Linked DNA regions of Homo sapiens. The protein of the gene in region 1 purifies or fractionates together with the protein of each later gene. This does not show direct contact. Each region holds a gene or a part of one and is shown in the gene's direction. Other genes may lie near its edges.

Evidence for each region. The genes of interacting proteins can lie anywhere in the genome.
Region 2: the proteins of CNKSR1 (region 1) and PHLDB3 purify together in Homo sapiens (affinity purification with mass spectrometry; 2 studies listed by BioGRID and IntAct, with this or other methods). This does not show direct contact.
Region 3: the proteins of CNKSR1 (region 1) and HAUS5 purify together in Homo sapiens (affinity purification with mass spectrometry; 2 studies listed by BioGRID and IntAct, with this or other methods). This does not show direct contact.

Annotation. Positions count from the first base shown.
Region 1 is NC_000001.11:26,173,178-26,180,514, forward strand, and holds the start of CNKSR1 (connector enhancer of kinase suppressor of ras 1), read left to right. Parts: upstream 1-4,313; 5' UTR 4,314-4,370; coding exon 4,371-4,422; intron 4,423-7,275; coding exon 7,276-7,337. UniProt on the Homo sapiens protein: May function as an adapter protein or regulator of Ras signaling pathways.
Region 2 is NC_000019.10:43,494,712-43,501,746, reverse strand, and holds part of PHLDB3 (pleckstrin homology-like domain family B member 3), read left to right. Parts: coding exon 1-13; intron 14-3,870; coding exon 3,871-3,999; intron 4,000-4,467; coding exon 4,468-4,629; intron 4,630-6,126; coding exon 6,127-6,252; intron 6,253-6,407; coding exon 6,408-6,491; intron 6,492-6,931; coding exon 6,932-7,035.
Region 3 is NC_000019.10:35,615,735-35,622,769, forward strand, and holds part of HAUS5 (HAUS augmin-like complex subunit 5), read left to right. Parts: intron 1-1,389; coding exon 1,390-1,459; intron 1,460-1,552; coding exon 1,553-1,635; intron 1,636-2,120; coding exon 2,121-2,178; intron 2,179-2,336; coding exon 2,337-2,461; intron 2,462-2,667; coding exon 2,668-2,731; intron 2,732-2,834; coding exon 2,835-2,965; intron 2,966-3,152; coding exon 3,153-3,315; intron 3,316-3,689; coding exon 3,690-3,770; intron 3,771-3,878; coding exon 3,879-4,024; intron 4,025-4,277; coding exon 4,278-4,389; intron 4,390-4,460; coding exon 4,461-4,593; intron 4,594-4,688; coding exon of another isoform or gene 4,689-4,705; exon of another isoform or gene 4,706-4,753; intron 4,754-6,866; coding exon 6,867-6,999; intron 7,000-7,035.

The DNA of each region.
Region 1 (7,337 bases):
ATAGGCTGGGCATGGTGGCTCACACCTGTAATCCCAGCACTTTGGGAGGCCAAGGTAGGTGAATCACTTGAGGTCAGGAGTCCGAGACCAGCCTGGCCAACATGGCAAAACCCTGTCTCTACTAAAAATAAAAAAATTAGCTGGGTGTGGTGGCGCACACCTGTAATCCCAGCTACTTGGGAGATTGAGGCACGAGAATCACTTGAACCTGGGAGGGAGAGGTTGCAGTGAGCCAAGACTGCGCCACTGCACTCCAACCTGGGCAGCGGAGCAAGACTCTCTCAAAAAACAAAATGAAACCCTTTAAAATAGAAGTTGTCAGCCGGGCGTGGTGGTTTACGCCTGTAATCCCAGCACTTTGAGAGGCCGAGGCAAGGAGATCACTTGAGGTCAGGAGTTTGAGACCAGCCTGGTCAACATGGTGAAACCCCATCTCTACTAAAAATACAAAATTAGCCGAGCATGGTGGCACACGCCTGTAATCCCAGCTACTTGGGAGGCAGAGGCAGGAGAATAGCTTGAACCTGGGAGGCGGAGGTTGCAGTGAGCCAAGATCATGCCATTGCACTCCAGCCTGGGCAACAAGAGCAAAGCTCTGTCTCAAAAAAATAGATAAAAATAAATAGAAGCTGCCACTTACTGTGTTCCTAACTGCCTAACCCTGGCAGATGCTGGGAGCGTAGAGTAAAGGCGCCGTGGTTCAGGGAGAGAGGGGGCTGGTTCTCACCTCTGGTGGCAGCTCAGGAAAGATATTTGATGAAATCAAGATCTGTCTACCGAACACTGATAAAGGCTCTATTAGAATTTACTGGACTTCCCCAGAGTGCCACAGGGAGGCTGCTGCATGAAGAGGCAAAAATGTTAAACGAGGATGCAGCACGGAGTGTTCAAGGGACACAGACCTGAGGCAAAAGACAAAGCTGGAGACGGGCATTTTGCAAATTTGAAGCCAACTGGCTCACAAAATGAAAGAGGCTGTTAATACCAAGTGTGAAGGTGGGATGGCATCACCAGAGCTGGCCAAGTTCAGAGAAGCTGGAAATCTCAATTTGGATGTGACGTTATTAAATGATGACAACACACGTACACTACATGGGCCAACCATGGGCGAAATTCAGACTTTGGGTCTCTGGGTTACAGGTAAGGTCGTGACAGGCTTTGATGACTGGGGGTGCTGCAGAAATTCTGAAGTAGGTGACAACAGGTAGCTCCTCCCCACAGAATTAAAGCAATAATAACTCATATCTACCCCATGATACAGATTTCAAAGTACTTAATGTCATCACAGTGCTAAGGCCTAGGAATCCCCTTCTGGAGACAAAGAAACAGATTCAGAGAGCTGTAGAAGTTGGGCTGAGTCACATAGCAGTTGAGTATGGAACTGATTTTATCTGATTTTTTTTTTTTTTGAGACAGAGTTTTGCTCTTGTTGCCCAGGTTGGAGTGCAGTGGCGCAATCTCGGCTCACTGCAACCTCTGCTTCCGGGTTCAAGCAATTCTCCTGTCTCAGCCTTCCGAGTTGCTGGGATTATAGGCGCCCGCCACCACGACCGGCTAATTTTTTGGATTTTTAGTACAGACAGGGCTTCTCTATGTTGGCCAGGCTGATCTCGAACTCCTGACCTCAGATGATCCACCCGCCTTGGCCTCCCAAAGTGCTGGGATTACAGGCATGAGCCACCGCGCCCGGCCTTTTTTTTTTTGAGGTGGAGTTTCACTTTTGTTGCCCAGGCTGGAGTGCAATGACGCGATCTCAGCTCACCGCTACCTCTACCTCATGAGTTCAAGCAATTCTCCTGCCTCAGCCTCCCGAGTACCTGGGATTACAGGCATGTGCCACCACACCCGGCTAATTTTGTATTTTTAGTAGAGATGGGGTTGCTCCATGTTGGTCAGGCTGGTCTCGAACTCCTGACCTCAGGTGATCCGCCCGCATAGGTCTCCTGAAGTGCTGGGATTACAGGCCTGAGCCACCACGCCCGGCTGATTTTATCTGATTCTAAAGTCCTGGGAGTCCCCTGACCTGATGATGATGATGAAAATGAACATTTACTATGTGTCAGATATTTTTCTAAGATTAAAGCTCTTGCTCTGAGGTTCAGAATTCAGGGGATCCATAAACTTGGATGGGAAAAAATTATATTTTTATTTTTGCTAAACTCTAACCAAAATTTATGATTTCCTTCTATATGGATTGAAGCAGTAGCAGTATCTTTGGCTTAGTCACCAATAGAAATCACATATTTTCATATCAAATTGTAGTTATTGCAAGTATCTCAAAATATTTATGCTCAAGTGATTTCAAAATCACAGTGGTTGTTAAACCACCACTAAATTGTTCGTGAGCAACTTCTGTTTCAGATGCTCCTGTGATGTAGCCGCCATTAATTGGTTACCTCCAGGCTTAGCAGTGGTTCAGTGACCAAAGGGCGAATCTGCCTGTTCTGAGTAGGGCTTCTCCACTCTTCTGCATTCCCTGTCTTTTTTTTTTTTTTTTTGAGACGAAGTCTTGCTCTGTCGCCCAGGCTAGAGTGCAGTGGCGCGAACTCGGCTCACTGCAAGCTCTGCCTCCTGGGTTCACGCCATTCTCCTGCCTCAGCCTCCTGAGTAGCTGGGACTACAGGCGCCCGCCACCATGCCTGGCTAATTTTTTGTATTTTTAGTAGAGACGGGGTTTCACCATGTTAGCCAGGATGGTCTCGATCTCCTGACCTCATAATCCGCCCGTCTCGATTATAGGCGTGAGCCACCATGCCCGGCCCAGCATTCCCTGTTTTTAGTTGTTTGCTGATCAATATGTAAGAGGAGGGGCGTCAAAGACCACCCCACAGTTTAATGTCCTTATTCAAGCTGGTCGACAACACACTGAGGTCATTAAAAAAGAAAAATTTAACTTTCGGCCAGTCTTATTAATGTTAGTAAACACATAATATAAATTTCTGGTTTTATTTTTTTGAGATGGGCTCCTGCTATGTTGCCCAGGGTGGCTTTGACTCCTGGGCTTGAGTGATACTCCCCCGCTCAACCTCTCAACCTCTCGAGTAGCTGGGACTACAGTCGTGTGCCAGCACTCCCCAGCTCCAAATTTTTTTTTTGTTTTTTGTGGGTTTTTTTTTTGAGACGGAGTCTTGCTTTGTTGCCAGGCTGGAGTGCAGAGGCGTGATCTCAGCTCACTGCAACCTCCGCCTCCCAGGTTCAAGCGATTCTCCTGCCTCAGCCTCCTGAGTAGCTGTGACTACAGGCGTGCACCACCACACCCAGCTAATTTTTGTATTTTTAGTAGAGACGGGGTTTCACCATGTTGGGCAGGCTGGTTTCCATCTCTTAACCTCATGATCCACCCGCCTTGGCCTTCCAAAGTGCTGGAATTACAGGCGTGAACCACCATGCCCGGCCAAATTTGTTTTTAAATATAGTTTTGATAATTGTTCTCATTGTAATCCTAAGCATTTTGTTTTGTGCATTTATTTATTTATTTATAATACAGAGTTTTGCTCTGTTGCCCAGGCTGGAGTGCAGTGGCACGATCTTGGCTCACTGGAACCTCCCCCTCCTGGGTTCAAGGGATTCTCCTGCCTCAGCCTCCTGAGTAGCTGGGATTACAAGCACCCACTACGCCCAGCTAATTTTTTGTATTTTTAGTAGAGATGGTGTTTCACCATATTGGCCAGGCTGGTCTTGAACTCCTGATCTCAAGTGATCCGCCCACCTCGGCCTCCCAAAGTGCTGGGATTACAGGCGTGAGCCACCGCGCCCGGCCTGTTTTATGCCTTTATAAGCAGCTATTCTGAGAAAGCATTCACAGGCCTCACCAGATGCCAGAGTCCATACTGCAAAATCCAAGGGAGGCTAAACACCCCAGTTCTAAATGTTTTCAAGCCATTCAGATACTGTGCACAGCTGCCCTTTGAAGTACGGTCTATTATATCTCTTTTACAGACCCAGAAACTGAGGCGCAGAAGTTAGGGTCAGCCCCAGGTCACACAGCTAACAAGAGCTGGCCTAGGCACCCAGGGACCTGGCCCCCTAGCCTCTGTGCTTTGCTACTGATTTCAGCGCTCCTCTTGTGGCTTTTTCTTGAGGAGCCCAAGGGTCAGGGTCCCACCCCGCGATATGAGGCCAGTGGCACTGCCCCCTAGCAGGCGCGAGATGCCAGAGCCCTAGGATGTCTGAAGGGCCGGGCAGGAGGCGGACGGGCGTGGGCCAATGGCTGTCGCAGTGCCTCATCTTGCCGTCTGTGTGAGCCCAGGTATGCAGTAGGCTCCGCCCAGGACCCAGCCCGGCCCCTCCTTAGGCCTGGGCTCTGGGAGCGGAAATTCCGGCGACAGCAGGGCAAAACAGGAGCTGATTCGAGCTGGCAGAGCTGGGCCATGGAACCGGTAGAGACCTGGACCCCCGGAAAGGTGGCAACTTGGCTGAGAGGTGGGTGGGGCTGGGGTAGAGTTGGGCTTGAAGGGGACTAGGTGTGGTGTCCCACCGGGAAGCGGGAGGAGAGGAAAAGGAAAAAAAATCTGCGGACTGGGTGCGCTGGTTCACACCTGTAATCCCAGCACTTTGGGAAGCCAAGGTGGGTGGGTCACCTGAGGTCGGGAGTTCAAGACCAGCATGGTGAAACCCCGTCTCTACTAAAAATACAAAAATTATCTGGGGGTGGTGGCAGGTGCCTGTAATCCCAGCTACTTGGGAGGCTGAGGCAGGAGAATCGCTTGAACCCAGGAGGCAGAGGTTACAGTGAGCCGAGATTGCACCGCTGCACTCCAGTCTGGACGACAGAGCGAGATTCAGCTCAAAAGAAAAAAAAAAATAATAAACTGCGGGCTCTATCAGTCGGTCAGTCAGTCAACAAATATTTACAGAGCACCTAACATGTTCCAGGAACCGTGCTGGGCAGAGAGACAGATGAGATGACCCTGGGGGGCCCAAGGACCCAGAAGGGGGCCCCTCATCATGGCAGTAGCCCAAGAGGCCTCTAGGGTGATAATGGGGAGGCGGTGTCATGAAAACAGGAGGGAGGCCTGACAGGCCCACACCCACTGTATCTCCTTCATCTTCCCTGGCCCCAGGGCCAGTGGGCTGTTGTTAAATCCGTTTCTTAGAGTCAGAAACTGACACACAGAGCCAGGAAATGATTTGCTCAGTCTCTGGTGTCATTTTCCCCGCTCCACACCCTGAGCTCCTAGTGACAGAAGCAGAAGCCCTAGGCCAGACTGAAGAGGTTGACACAGCCCCACCCTGGGGCTCCTATCCAAGGGGCAAGGTGCTGTCCAGGCTCAGCGAGCCCACACAGATGGGAAGCAACACACCCCACAGGCAGACTCAGAGAAGGAAGGGCCTCCTGACACACAGTGCGACCAGGAGCAGGCAGTCAGGACACCCCTCCCAGAGTGGGGAGCTGGAGCGCACTAGAGACAGGCTCAGGAGGACCAGCCCGGGTAAGGGCAGGAATTCAGGGCTGGGTTCAGACTCCCAGGCTGGATTCCAGGCCCACCCCCACCGCTTGCCAGCTCTGTGACCATAGGTCTTAGTTTTTCTGTCCATCAAATGGGAAAGGCAACTCTGACCTTATGAAGTCGACAAAGTGAGACAATCATGACATAGTTCATTTGTAGCTCAATGCCTGGGTCTATTGGGAGGGCACCAGCCCAATACAGTCACCGTGCAGGAAGGAGGTGGCTCAGGGGCCCATAGCCAGGGAGTGATAGGTTCATGAACTCCCAGTCCAGTGCTCTCAATGTGACACAGGGAACACACACACACACCTCCCCCAGTGAAGGAGCCTGGCTTAGAAGGGGAAGAATTCCTTCGAAGAGTGAGCAAGCTACTTAACCTCTGTGTCAGTTTTCCCATCTGTAAGCAGGATAATGATAGTCTTTACCTCCTAGAAATGCAGTGAGAATCAAATGTGTTAATATGTGTAAAGCTCTTATAGATTTGCATAGCACATAGTAAGCCCTCAATAGACACTTTTCTTATTTTTCAGTGCCTACCTTGTCCAGGCACAGGCCGGGGGTTAGAGACAAATGGTTATCTAAGGCCTGATCTTTGAAGAGCCTGTGATAAAATGGGAAAGACCGATGGTCAAGTGCAGGGGTTTGTGGAGGCTCAGGGGCAGTGGGAACAAGAGGAGAGCCCTCCATCCCACTCAGCCTGGGAAGTTATGGAAGGCTTCCTGGAGGAAGTTAGATGAAAAAGGAAGTGAAGGAGATAGAAGAGCAACGCCAGCAGGAGGAATAGCACTTGCAAGGACGCTGAGGTAAAAGGGTGTTCCAGGAGCTGCAAGGAATTAGCTCTGTGCATCTGAAATGTTGAGTTTAGGGGGCTCTTCAGGATATGATGCTGGAAAGGGAGGTAGTAGCCTAATCATACAGGGCCTGTAGGTCATGGTAAAGTCTGGCAATAATAATATGATGGCTATTATTGGCTGTCTCCCACGAACCAGACAGTGGCCAAGGCCTTGACATATGTTGTGTCATTCAATACACACATGATTAGAAGGTAGGTACTTTTATTATTCTCACATTACAGGTGAGAAAACTGGGCACAGAGCAGTGCTATTACTTGCTCAAGTGTTCACAGTGTCTCAGTGACTCCATAGCCTCTTGTTCTTATCCCCTGTATCATTAGTTCTCAAACTTAAGGGAGCATCACAGTCACCTGCATTAAAATACAAACTGCTGGCTGGGCGTCGTGGCTCACACCTGTAATTCTAGCACTTTCAGAGACTGAGGCAGTCAAATTGCTTGAGCCCAGGAGTTCGAGACTAGCCTGGGCAACATGGTGAAATCCCACCTCTGCAAAAAATACAAAAATTAGCTGGGTGTGGTGGTGTGTGCCTGTAGTCCCAGCTACTTGGGAGGCTGAGGTGGGAGGATGGATTGAGCCTAGGAGGTCAAGGCTGCAGTGAGCCGTGACTGTGTCTCAAGCCCCTGTCTCAAAAAGAAAAAACAAAACAAAAACAAAAAAAAGACTGCTGGGCCCCAACCTCAGAGTTTCTGATTCAGCAGGTGTGGGGTGAGGCCTGATAATTTGCATTTCTAACAAGTTCTCCGGTGAGTCTGCTGCTGCTGGTCTGGGGGCCACTTTTAAGAACCCATGTCCTATACTTTCCTGCTTCTCAACTCAGTGGCCTCATCTGTGAAATGGGCAGAACAGCCTGGGTGTCAGAGTTGTCATTAGGGTTAGACTAGAGGGAAAAGAGCTTTGCAGGCATGAAGAACCATCCCAAAAGGTCCTGACACCTCTGCTTCCCCGAGCTGAGCCTTACTCTCCCTCCAGGTCTTGACGACTCCCTGCAGGACTATCCCTTTGAGGACTGGCAGCTGCCTGGCAAGAACCTG
Region 2 (7,035 bases), on another chromosome or scaffold:
GCAGCGGGAACAGGTCTGTTTGGCTCACCGGGTCTTCATCAGCAGTGTCCTTCCTGGTCCATGGATGTTGGTGTGCTCCTAGCCACCTGCGCCCCGGGGTTGTCCCCATTCCCCAAAGGAAGACATTTGGGCTCCTGAGAGAGTGAGGGGCAGATGCCCCTCCTGGTTTTCCTTCTCCCTCCCTGGGCGAGATTTTTGGGGCTCTTCCTTTGTCCCCTGTCCGTTTGCTATTTAAATGTGGGTGTGTAAAAACTTCCAAACTGGCCGGAAGCAGTGGCTCACGCCTGTAATCATAGCACTTTGGGAGGCCGAGGCGGGCGGATTGCCTGAGCTCAGGAGTTTGAGACCAGCCTGGGCAACATGGCGAAACCCCGTCTCTGCTTAAAAATACAAAAATTAGCAGGGCGTGGTGGCGGGCGCCTGTAGTCCCAGCTACTTGGGAGGCTGAGGCAGGAGAATCGCTTGAATCCGGGAGATGGAGGTTGCAGTGAGCCAAGATCGCACCATTGCACTCCAGCAGCCTGCGTGACAAGAAGGAGACTCCGTCTCAAAAAAAAAAAAAAAAAAAAAAGAGAAAAAGAAAACTTCCAAACCCACCCCACAATAGTCAGGCAGCTCCCATGTCCTGTGCCCACCAGCTTCATCAATGATTAATATTCTTACATTCTTGTTTCATTATCTCCAATTTGTTCTCGTCCCCAGTTTTAAAAGCCAATCCCAGACATCATATGGTCTGTACATATGTTTAGAGTGTATCATTGACAGATAAGAAATCCTTTTAGGCTGGGCCAAGTGGCTCACACCTGTAATCCCAGTACTTGCGGGGTGGGGGGGGGGTACGGGGGGCGGGGCAAAGTGGGAGGATCGCTTGAGGCCAAGACTATGAGACCAGCCTGGCAATATTATAATAAGACACCGTTTCTGTGAAAAATAAAAATACAAAAATTAACCAGGCATGGTGGCATGTGCCTGTGGCCTCAGACTCAGAAGAGTGAGGTGGGAGGATCAATTGAGCCCAGAAGGTAGAGGCTGCAGTGAGCTGTGATTATAACATTGCACTCCAACCTGGGCGATAGAGCAAGACCCTGTCTCAAAAATAAAAAATTAATAAGTTCTTAGTATTGTCTTATTTCTGGTTAGTTTTTGTGTTTCCCAGACAGTCTCAAAATGCCAGTTAACAGGTGGCTTGTTTGAATGAAGTCCCCAAAGTTCAGTGTGATTGGCTGATACGTCTTGCCCATTGTTTTATCTCTGGTGGTTCCTACCCGCTGTGTCTTCCCCATACTGTTTATTGGAAAAATCCAGTCTTCTGTCCTATAGGCAGAGCATGGCTGATCGCATGCCTGTGGTGCCCTTGAACATGCCTCTGTTTCTGCAAGTGGGTGTTGGTTAGAGGGAGAGGTTTGATCGTATTCAGAAGTGCTTTAGTGCTTCCTGAGCCAGTGTTGGGAACCTCATCTCTGGTTGTCCCGACCTAATAAGATCACCCTAGTCTCTTTTTTTTTGCGAGACACAGTTTCGCTCTTGTTGCCCAGGCTGGAGTGCAATGGCGTGATCTTGGCTCACCGTAACCTCTGCCTCCCAGGTTCAAGCGATTCTCCTGTCTTAGCCTCCCCAGTAGCTGGGATTACAGGCATGCACCACCATGCCCGGGTAATTTTGTATTTTCAGTAGAGATGGGGTTTCTCCATGCTGGTCAGGCTGGTCTCGAACTCCTGACCTCAGGTGATCTGCCCGCCTTGGCCTCCCAAAGTGCTGGGATTACAGGTATGAGCCACCGCAGTTCGAGGCCAGCCTGGCCAACATGATGAAACCCCATCTCTACTAAAAATACAAAAAATTAGCTGGGCGTGGTGGCAGGCACCAGTAATCCCAGCTATTCGGGAGGCTGAGGCAGGAGAATTGCTTGAATCCGGGAGGTGGAGGTTGCAGCTCCCAGGAGCCAAGATCACACCACTGCACTCCAGCCTGGGCAACGGGAGCAGAACTCCATCTCAAAAAAAAGAATCTTTTATCTGAAGATTGTAACATCCATCAGTGGTCATTGCTTGGGTCAGTTACCATTATAGGTTGGAAAATGGTGACTTGTGATTTTGTCAGTTTTTTTCTTTGCAAGTGTCGTGTATGTTGGAATTTTATGAGGCTGGGTCCTAGGCCCTCATTTATCCTCAAAGATCACATATTTCTCCCAGGCCCTCTCTCCTGAGACAGAAATGTGCTCTTCTTCCTAGGGTACTGGCTACTTCATACTCCCTTCTCACCCAGATCCAGAAATCTCGGTCGCAGCCCCTTCTCCCTCTGTCCCAGGAGTCCAGACCCCCAGCTCCTCCTCCCTCAAACCCAGAAGTCCAGACCCCCAGATCCTCCTTCCTTAGATCCAGGAATCCAGGCCCCAGCCCCTCCTCCCTCTGACCCAGGAGTCTGGCTGACCTCAGCAACTCCCTTCTCCACACTGTTTGTCTTGCTGTCCCTTTGGTCACCAGGCCAGAGTCCTGGACTTTGCCCTGTACACTTCCCTGTCTCTCACCTCCAAGCCCGTCAACCACCATGTCCTATCCTTTCTGCTTCCTGATCCTCTCTGTCTAGTCCATCTATTTTTCAGCCCCACCGCCCAGGCCCCAGCTTAGGTCTCACCCTCATTGCTTGGAGGACTCCCGAGGCAGCTGCTCTCCACCCCTGTAACCCATCTCCCAGAGGGATGATTCCTAGCTCCTACCCCATCCTTTCAGTCCTTCTGAGGCTCCCCATATCCCCAGGTTGACCAAACCCCCCGTGAGCTGGACGAGCTGGCCTTCCCACTGTCCTCTCCCACCACGTTCTTCCCACCACCACATCCTCTTCCACCCTGGCTGGAGTTTGTCCCCCAGACTTCTTGTACTTTTCAACTTTCATGCATTTGTGCCAAGCCGCTTCCTCTGCCCAAAATGCTCTTCTAGCTCCTTTTATTTTCCCAGATCCAAATGCTCCCTGATTGTTTTGTTTTGTTTTGATTTTGAGACAGGGTCTCACTGTCGCCCAGGCTGGAGTGCAGTAGTGCAATCACTGCAGCCTCAACCTCTGGCTGACATTGTTCTTCATTCTGGGTTCCCACAGTCTCTGGATTTTACTGCCCTGATCTTTCCAACTGGCTGTGTTCCCACTTGGAGGACAGGGCCCAGACACAATCCACTTCTGCATCCACCGTATCACATAACATGAATATGTTTTGCATTCATTAATTTTCTTTCTTCTTTCCTTCCTTCCATCATTCCTTCCTTCCTTCCTTTTTGTTTCTCTTTCTCCTCCTTTCCTTTTCTTTCTTTTTCTTTCTCTTCCCTCCCTCCCTCTTTTCTTTCTCTCTCTCCTTCCTTCGTTCCTTCCCTCTTTCTCTCTTTCTTTCTTTTCTGTCTTTTCTCCTTTCCTTCCCTTTCGAGACAGTGTCTCCCTCTGTCACCCAGACTGGAACAGTGATGCAAACACAGCTCAGTGCAGCCTCAATCTCCCTGGCTCAAGCAATCCTCCCACCTCAGCCTCCCGAGTAGCTGGAACTACAGGCGTGCACTAACACACTCCACTAATTTTTTTGTTTTTTTGTAGAGATGGGCTCCCCCTATGTTGCCCAGGCTAGTCTCAAACACCTGGGCTCAAGAGATCTTCCCACTTTGGCCTCCCACAGTGCTAGGATTACAGGTGTGGGCCACCACACCTGGCCTCATTCATTTCTTTAAAATCTTGGTGCTGACTGTGAGGCAGGCCTGCACAGGAGTGAATCACATAGATGAAGTCCCTGCCTTTGTACAGCCGACACCCCAGGCAGGCTCTGAGATATGGCTGGCTGCTGCTTCTCCCGCTATGCTTAAGCTGAGGGTGAGAACCTTGTTGTTCTTTCAGGAACAGAGGCGGCTGAGCCAGGAACGGGATCGCCTAGAGGGTCTTCGCCAGAGACTCCGCAAGGCCCAGGGACAGCTCGACTCACAGCCAGAGGACCAACGCGAGCGGCTTCTGCAGGGTGTGCAGGAGGTAATGGCATCTGGTTCTTTCTTTTTTGTTTTTTTTGAGACAGAGTCTCGCCTCGTTGCCCAGGCTGGAGTGCAGTGGTGCGATCTCGGCTCACTGCAACCTCCGCCTCCCAGGTTCAAGCGATTCTCCCATCTCAGCCTCCCGTGTAGCTGGGACTACAGGTGCGCACCACCACACCCAGCTAATTTTTGGCATTTTAGTAGAGACGGGGTTTCACTATTTTGGCTAGGCTGGTTTCGAACTCCTGACAGGTGATCCACCTGCCTCGGCCTCCCAAAGTGCTGGGATTACAGGCGTGAGCCACTGTGCCCAGCTGGCCCTCTGATTCTTAGCCCCCTCCTCCCCAGGACCCAGGAATCCAAGTCCTCAGTCACCTTCTTCCTCTGACCAGGAGTCCCAGCCCCAGCCCACTACTCCCTGGGGTCTTAGGGATTCAGGCCTCCACCCTTTTTGTGTTCCGACCTATAGATGAGGGAACAACTGGATGTGGCCCAACGTGCCTATGAGGACCTGGAGTTCCAGCAACTGGAGCGGGAGAGCCGGCAGGAGGAGGAGGATCGGGACAGCCCTGGGCCCCAGGTGCCAGACCCCAAGGTCCAGGAACTCCAGGCCAGCATGGCGCAGCACAGAGTGAGTCATGCCTGACCAGCGCTGCCCCCCTTGCTGCTCCTCTCTGTCTCCCCTGCTCTGTGCCTGCCTTTTTCTCTGTCCTTGTTTCCTGCCTGTCATGTTCTTCTGAATAGTAACAACAAGAGCTGATACTAATGAAACATTTACTATGTGCCAGATATGGTCCTGAATATTTCATGAGCATTTCCTCACTGAATCCTTACAACAAACTTATGAGGCAAGTTCTATTACGTTTTTTTTTTTTCACGTTATAAATAAAGAAGCTGAAGGTCAAGGTGCTTAAGTAATCTTTTCCAAGTTTCCTTAGTAAGGGACAGAGCCAGGATTTTTTTATTTTTATTTTTTGAGATAGCGTCTCACTCTGTCACCCAGGCTGGAGTGCAGTGACACGTTCACAGCTCACTGCAGCCTCCACGTCCTGTGCTTAAGCGATCCTCCCACCTCAGCCTCTCGAGTAGCTGGGACCACAGGTGCGAGCCCCTACACCTGGATAATTTTTGTATTTTTAGTAGAGACAGGGTTTCACCTGGTCTTAAACTCTTGGATTCAAGCGATCCTCCCACCTTGGCCTTTCAAGATGCTGGGATTACAGACATGAGCCACCGTGCCTCGCCACAGCCAGGATTTGAACAAACTTGGTATTCACCACCACATTCTTTGCCTCTATTCCAAAAAGATGCTTCATCAGATCCTTCCTGGGAGCCTCACATTCAAGGGTCTGACTTGTGAGACCCTTGGGAAAAAATGGGCATGTTTGACCATATTTAACACAGAGTTTCCCAAAGTTTTGGATTAGAAAGCTCGGCCGGGCTCGGTGGCTCACTCCTGTAATCCCAGCACTTTGGGAGGCCGAGGCAGGCAGATGACCTGAGTTTGGGAGTTTGAGACCAGCCTGACCAACATGGAGAAAGCCCATCTCTACTAAAAATACAAAATTAGCTGAGGGTGGTGACGCATGCCTGTAATCCCAGCTACTCGGGAGGCTGAGGCAGAGAATTGCTTGAATCCGGGAGGCGGAGGTGGCGGTGAGCCGAGATTGAGCCATTGCACTCCAGCCTGGGCAACAACAGCAAAACTCCATCTCAAAAAAAAAAAAAAAAAGAGCTTTTCTTGGGTCTCCTTTCCCCACCTGCTTCTGGATCTTTTTCCTCTCCCGCTGGCTTTTCCTTCGTCTCGGGTTGTCTCTACTTGTCTCTGTTCTATTTCTATCTTTTCTTTTGCCTGAATCTTTGTCTACATCTCTGTCTTTTGGGGCCTGTCTTGGTTACTGTTCTCTCTGTCCATCCCTTTCTCTTCATCTTCCCCAGATCTCTTCTGGACCCTCAAAAGGGAAGAGGGTCCAGGGAGCTGAACGCTGGGTCCCCAGCCCTGGACACTCCGATCCCATGGTCTCTGGGAGTGGCTGGAGTAAACCCCAGCCCTCCAGGCAGATGTGGTTCTGTGGGAGGGTGGCCTGGAGAGCTGGCTGGGGCCGTGACAGATGAGTAACCGGGACAGAGGGGTGCTCTGCAGCACCGGATCCGGGTCCTGGAAGAGCAGCTCAAGTCACTGGGGGAGCAGATGGCAGCCGAGAGCCGGGGGTTGAGCCGGAAGAAGGAGGAGGCCCTTCAGGCCCTGTCACAGGTGAGCTACCTGTCACCTGCCCTACCCTACCGTCCTCACTTCCCCCTGGGGCATCCCACCACCTCCCTGCACCCCAGATGTCTCCTGACATTAGGGAAAGCAGCTGGGACAGCCCATTCTGACTTTGACACGTAGCTGTCCATATCTTCTGGTAGGAACGGAGCCGGCTGCTCGAGCTCAATTGCCTTCAGGGAACACCTGGCGGGGACTTCTCTGAGCCCAACCCGGCCCTCACTAAGGTATGGGGATTTTGTATGCCTCTCAGTCCCTCCTCCCTCAGACTTGAAAGTCCAGTCCCCAGCCCCTCCTCCCTCAGACGCAGGAGTCCAGGCCCTAGCCCCTCCTCCCTCAGACCCAGGAGTCCAGGCCCCAGCCCCTCCTCCCTCAGACTCAGGAGTCCAGGCCCCAGCCCCTCCTCTCTCAGACCCAGGAGTCCAGGCCCCAGCCCCACCTCCCTCAGACCCAGGAGTCCAGCCCCCAGCCCCTCCTCAGGGAGCCAGGAGTCTCTGCCCACAGCCCTACATTGGGAGACTGGACACGAAGGACCACATTCCATCTCTCCTTAGTTTTTCTTTCTGAGAAATGGGTGGCACTAGAGGCATGGGCCAGAGCACGTGGAAACTGGCAGTTGCTCTGGGGTCTCTCCTGCTCCCACGAAACTTCACCCCATCTCTTGCAGCTGCTGTTCACCCAGAAGACAGACCGCCAGCTGCTGGTGCTCCAGGATGCCGTGGCCCACTCCGCTGCCACCCCTACTTCTTCCTGCCTCTTTTCTGTCCACAG
Region 3 (7,035 bases), on another chromosome or scaffold:
CATAGAAGGGAGAGGGAGATGCTGCCCTAGCGAGGGTGGTCAGCGAAGGCCTCTGAGGAGGGGACATTGAGTTGGAAGAGGAATTTCTGTGGAGAAGGAATAGCAAGAGCAGAGGTGGTGTGCTCAGCATGCAGGAAGAGCAGCCCGGAGGCCAATGTCAGCTCAAGTTTCTCAGGCAAGACCGAGAACCTGAGGAGGTGAGGTCGAAGGAGTGGACAGAGAACTGTGGATGATGTGTTGCGATTTTACCCTGACACTGGTTCATGCCCTGGCTTGGCCACTTAAAATTGGGTGACCTAAGGCTGGGCATGGTGGCTCACACCTGTAATCCCAGCACTTTGGGAGGCCGAGGCAGGCGGATTACTTGAGGTCAGGAGTTCGAAACCAGCCTGGCCAACATAGTGAAACCCCGTCCCTACTAAAAAATACAAAAATTAGTCGAGTGTGGTGGCACGTGCCTGTAGTCCCAGCTACTCAGGAAGCTGAGGCAGGAGAATCACTTGAACCCAGGAAAAGGAGGTTGCAGTGAGCCTGGATTGCACCACTGCACTCCAGCCTGGGTGACAAGAGCAAAACTCTGTTTAAAAAAAAAAAAATTGGGTGACCTTGGGCAAGGTATTTAACTTCTTTCTATGTGCCTCAGATTCTAAGATCTGTGGAATGGGGATAATATTAATACCAAGCTTATAGGGTAGGCATGATCGTTAGGTGGAATAAATCATGTGAAGTGCTTAGAGAAGTGCCTGTTAACCATTGTTATTCTGGGTTTGGTTTTTTTGTTTTGTTTTGTTTTGTTTTTTTGAGACAGAGTCTGGCTCTGTTGCCCAGGCTGGAGTGCAGTGGCATGATCTTGGCTCACTGCAACCTCTGCCTCTGGGGTTCAAGCGATTCTCCTGCCTCAGCCTCCCCAGTAGCTGGGATTATAGGCGCATGCCACTGTGCTCGACTAATTTTTGTATTTTTAGTAGAGACGGGGTTTCACCATGTTGTCCAGGCTGGCCTTGAACTCCTGACCTCAAGTGATCCACCTACCTCAGCCTCCCAAAGCGCTGGGGTACAGGCATGAGCCACCACGCTGGGCCCATTGTTATTCTGAATGCGCTGGGGAAACATCACATTATTTTGGACAGATCTGAGCAGGGACATGATCTTCCTACAGTTTTAACAGAATCACTGACTTCTGGGTGGCAAACAGTCTCGTGGAGCAAAAGCAGTGGGGAGGCTAATGCAATATTCCAGCTGGGAGGTGACAGTGGCCTAATCTGGAGATGGCTCCCGAGATCTAGGCTTAGTGATTCCTCTGACCGGCCTTGCTGGCAGTGAGAGGAGATGGGGCACAGACATCTGTTCTCCCAGGGACCCCAGCCCCAGCTGCACTTCTCCCTCCAGGAAAGCCAAAGTAGATGTGACCTTTGGATCCCTCACGTCGGCAGCTCTGGGCCTGGAGCCCGTGGTCCTGGTAAGAGTCCTGGTCATGGGAGAAGGGGCAGGGAGCCTGGAGTCAGGCAGATGCTAGGGTCCCCCTCAGGTCCCTTCCTCCTCTTCTCCCTAGCGTGATGTCCGAACAGCCTGCACCCTCCGGGCCCAGTTCCTGCAGAACCTCCTGCTTCCCCAGGCCAAGAGGGGCAGCCTCCCGTGAGTGTCCCTAGCCCCCAGAGACCCTGTAAAGACCCTGGGTTTTAAGTGGGGGTCTCTTATTTATTAATTCCTCAGACACTGAGCTTCTGGGCTACGTTCTGTAGAAGGGGACTTCCAGGCTGGGAATAGAAGGAGACAGTCTCTCATCACAAACAGTGACAGCCAGGTGGTCAGGGCTGTTGCGGGAGTGAGGAGGCCTGAGAGGCTCTGGGCACCCAGAGGCAGTGCCTTTCCCAGCTAAGAAGGCAGGGAGGGGAGAGGTTCTCTGGTGAGGAGGCTTAGCTGGGGTGAAGGGTCCAGAGAGTGTCCCAGATGAACAACCCATGTAAAGGCCCCAAAGCCAGCAGGTTGGTATAATTGGGGAACTCAAGTCTAACAGGCATAGGGAAGATGACAGCCCCTACCTTATAGGGTGGTGGTGATAACTAGAGGATAATTGACGTGTCTTGTAACGTTCTCTGTCCGCTTACCCAACCCCACAGAACCCCTCATGATGACCACTTTGGCACTTCGTACCAGCAGTGGCTGAGCTCAGTGGAGGTGAGAGGGCAGGGCTCTCAGGAAAGCCACACCCTCCCGCTCCTTGATCAAAACTTAGGGTGCCAGGACCTAACTCTTGATGACAGCCCTATTCCCATGGGGTCTCAGCTCACAGCCCTGCCCCGATCCTGCCCTGACTTCACCCTCCCTCCCCCTAGACGCTGCTGACAAACCACCCCCCAGGCCACGTCCTGGCTGCCTTGGAGCACCTGGCTGCAGAGCGGGAGGCAGAGATTCGGTCCCTGTGCAGTGGGGATGGGCTTGGCGACACAGAGATATCCAGGTGTGGGGCAGGGTATTCTCACAGTTGGGGAAGGCCATGTGAGTGGGTGAGCTGGGACAGCCTCAGGACCCCTGGCCCAGCCACCTGCTGATGGGGTAGAACTGAAACCCACTGCCTGGTGGGGTGGCAGGACTGATACTGTCCACCCTCGAGTACCAAGGCAAGGCCGCAGCACGGCTCCCTCAGCAGCTCTTCCCCCACCCCAGACCCCAGGCCCCGGACCAGTCAGACTCCAGCCAGACCCTGCCGTCCATGGTTCATCTCATCCAGGTGACCCCAGGGCTCGCCTCCCCACCACATTCCAAGACTTCCTTAATCCCCTCACCCATGGATCATGCCCTGGGTGTACCCTGATTCTGTACCCCGCTTGCAGGAGGGCTGGCGGACTGTGGGTGTGCTGGTCTCCCAGCGGAGCACCCTCCTGAAGGAGCGGCAAGTCTTGACCCAGCGCCTCCAGGGCCTGGTGGAGGAGGTGGAGAGACGCGTCCTGGGATCCAGTGAGAGGTGGGGGGCTCTCCGAGAAGAGGTCTCTAGGCCATCTCGCTTCTGAGTGTCTCAGCCCATTGGACTTTTTCAGCCTCTGTGGCTCCTATCTCTGCCTCCTCTCCCTGCAGTGTCTCTCCCTGGTTTATGGTCCCTTGTGTGGCTCAGTCACCCTTCTCTCCTTTGCTCTCCTCCACTTGCCCTGCAGGCAGGTGCTGATACTGGGGCTTCGGCGCTGTTGCCTGTGGACGGAGCTCAAGGCCCTGCACGATCAGAGCCAGGAGCTGCAGGATGCAGCTGGGCATCGGCAGCTCCTGCTGAGGGAGCTACAGGCCAAACAGCAGCGGATCCTGCACTGGCGCCAGCTGGTGGTGAGAGGCTAGGCCCAGGGCCTTGTGGAGGGCCAGAGGGGAGGCTTGAAAACTATGGCTAAGAACTGGGCCTGAGCCCTGTGTGGTAGCACATGCCTGTGGTTCCAGCACTTTGGGAGGCTGAGGTGGGAGGATCTGAGCCCAGGAGTTCAAGGCTGAAGTGAGGTATGATCACACCACTGCACTCCAGCCTGGGTGACAGAGCAAGATGCTATCACTTAAAAAAAAAGAATGCTGTCACTTAAAAATTAAGAACTGGGCCTCCTAGGCAAGAGCCCAGGTGAGACTCCCAGGCAGAAGCAGGACCTAAGCAGAGAGGCACACTGAGGCTGGGAGCTGGGAGGAGTGGGTCTCAGGGTATCCTGGTTCCTCAGGAGGAGACCCAGGAACAGGTCCGCCTGCTCATCAAGGGAAACTCGGCCAGCAAGACCCGCCTGTGCCGGAGCCCGGGGGAGGTGAGATGGGAGTTGGGGTGAGGTCTGGGTAGGGCTGGATCTGCCAGGATGGGGCTGGGTGGACTTGTGATGTTGTGATGCCCCACCCACCCCTCCCCTTCCCCACAGGTGCTAGCTCTGGTCCAGCGAAAGGTGGTCCCTACATTTGAGGCAGTGGCACCACAGAGCCGGGAGCTGCTGCGCTGTCTGGAGGAGGAAGTCCGGCATTTGCCCCACATTCTGTTGGGCACGCTGCTGCGGCACAGGCCGGGAGAGTGAGACTGGGGCTGCCCCACCCCTGCCCTGCATCCCCTGCCATGGGTGACTGTCACTCCCTGAACCTCCTCAAAAAAGATAACCCCAGACCCCCAGTGTTCCCAGGCTGCCAGACCTCACCCTTGGGTCAGCAGCCCTGGTCTTGGCATCCTAGTCCCCAGACCCACCTTGAAGTTCCTGGGCCCCCAGAGCCTCCAGAACCCAAGGCCTCCTCTCAGTCCCCACCCAACCCAGACTTCTCCCCGCCCGTAGGTTGAAGCCCCTGCCCACGGTCCTCCCATCCATCCACCAGCTGCACCCCGCGTCCCCAAGGGGCTCCAGCTTCATAGCGCTGAGCCACAAGCTGGGGCTGCCTCCAGGGAAGGTGAGTGCCCGTCTCCTGTGACTTGTCTCCCCAGCCCCGCCCCAGGTGACCGTCCTTCCCTCCTCCTCCAGGCCTCGGAGCTGCTCCTGCCGGCGGCTGCCTCTCTTCGCCAGGACCTTCTGCTCCTGCAGGACCAGCGGAGCCTCTGGTGCTGGGATCTACTCCACATGAAGACCAGCCTGCCGCCAGGCCTTCCCACCCAGGGTAGGTCTGCCCTGCCACCCCATCCAGCCTCCCCGCCCATTCCCACTACCAGCAGCCTCCACGAGTCCTTACCAGCAACCCCGTTGTTTACGCAGTGCCCATTGTGTGCTAAGGGCTTTAAACATTCTCCCTTGTTTCATCTGCACGGCAGTCCCATAAGGTAAGTGCTGCTGTTCTCTCCATTCTACAGAGAAGGGAACTGAGACGCAGAGGTTAGTAGGTTGCCCAAATGGCAAAGCTGGAATTTGAATCCAGGTGGTCTGAAATGGGTCTGTGCTCCCAACCACTAAGCTACACTGCCGTCGACTTTCCACGTGTTCATTCATCACCGTCACATAGTATACCTCAGCAGTTCAAAGCCTGGGAATCCTCTCTGCCGTCTCTTCCTAGCTGTGTGGCCTCCCCGTGCCTTAGCTTCCTCCTCAGTGGAGTAAGCATGAAGCAATATCTTACCGAGGTGCTGGGCAGATTGAGGCAGGGGACCCACACAGGGCACTGAACACTGCCTGCTATGCAGTAAGCACCCTGTGTCTCCAATGTGATTAGCATCATTGTCTGTGTACACACACAGTCTCTTGGAGTCATGACGATGAGGAAAGGGACTTTTAAGAACCCCAGTTTACAGATGAGGAAACTGAAGGTTAGAGAAGTCATTCATTCCTGGATTCACTCACCAAATACTGGGTGTCTACCAGGTGCCAGCCCAGATGGCTTGATGGGGAGTGAGGAGAAAGGTCCCCACCCCAGGGGTTTCCCCAGATGGAAGTAAAGAGTAAAGAATGAAAGGATAAATACATGGAAGAGGAGAATTGATGAGAAATGAACCGGCAGTGCCAGCAGCACTGGAGGAAGAGACTGTTCAAGCCTCTGAGTTTGGGGCTCCCTGCCCTCCACTTCTTCACAAGGGGAGGGAACAGTGTGCAGGAGCAATGAGAGCAGCCCCAGACCCCACACGGCCTCTGCCCACCTCAGCCTCTGCCTACCACGCCCTCTGCCCACCTCATGTGTTTTTTGTTTTTGCTTTTGTTTTTTTGAGACAAGGTCTCATTCTGTCACTCAGGCTGGAGTGCAGTGGTGCCATCCTGGCTTACTGCAGCCTCAACCTCCTGGGCTCAAGCCATCCTCCTGCCTCAGCCTCCCGAGTAGCTGGGACCACAGGCATGCACCCCACACCCAGCTAATTTTATATTTCTTATAATCATGGGCATCTTGAACTGTACACATCTATCATGGAACTCCTGGTTCTCTCTACTCCAAAAAACAATTTTGTTCCTCTTCTTGGTTTCCTTCCTTGTTAAATTATCTCACCCTCCTCATCCAAGTGCTGCACCCAGAAACCCAGGAGTCATCCTGAATTTCTCCATCACCCTAATCCCCCCACCCTCACCAGCTTCAGCCTCTCAGCAAGCCCTAAGGGTCCCATCCCCAGAGTTCTCCCATCGGTCCCCTGCCCCAGTAATTCCACCTGACAGCAGACGGAGCTGAACAAAGAGCCAGTGTCGTGATCAAGGTCACAGGGCAGGGATGGGATGGGGTCAGGATTCAGGCCCAGCTTGTCTGATCACGCTGCTCGTCTGCACTTGCTGAGCTGGGCCTGTTCTGTGCACATGGAGAGGTAGGCCCAGTCCCAGTCCCAGAGGAAAGCACCGCTAGGGTGAAGCTAGAGCAGGCGGAGGAGGAAGCCTTGGAGCGAGAGTGTTGGAGGGGCCTCCAGGAGGAAAGATACTCTCTACTGTGGGCCCTGGGAATCGGCCAGGCTTTGCCACATCATGAAACTCAAATACCTGCTGAAGGGCTTGGACTCTGCCTTGGGGGCACTGGAGAACCTTGGAGGGTTCTAGACAGGAGGGAGAGCATCAAATTTAGGCTTCAGGAAGATCACTGTGGTGTAGTGCGGAGGGTGAACCAGAGCAGGAGACTGAGGCCTGGAGCAGAGGAGAGGAAGAAACGCTCAGGAGACTGAGCGGACAGGCCATGGAGATTGATGGGCTCTCACGGGGAGGGAGGAAGGCATCCAGAAGGAGGCCTGGATGGGGCTGGGGGTGGTGGACTGCCCTTGAGATGAGGATCTGGGAGGAGGGACAGGTCCTCATCTCAAGGGCAGTCCCTCAGAAGGGGACTTCCAGGCTGGGAAGAGAAGGAGACAGACTCATCATTGGTTTGCGGGAGCTGCTGAGGTCAAGACTAGGGGACTGGAGAATTGGGGACTCATTGCTGTAAGGTACCAGCGAGCCAGAGGACTCAAAGCTGCCTCCTGGCTTTCTCACCCTCAGAGCTGCTGCAGATCCAGGCATCCCAGGAAAAACAGCAGAAAGAGAACCTGGGGCAGGCTCTGAAGAGGCTGGAGAAGCTACTGAAACAGGCACTGGAGCGAATCCCTGAGCTGCAGGGGATCGTGGGGGACTGGTGAGAGGGGAACGTGCCGCGGATGGGAAACAGAAA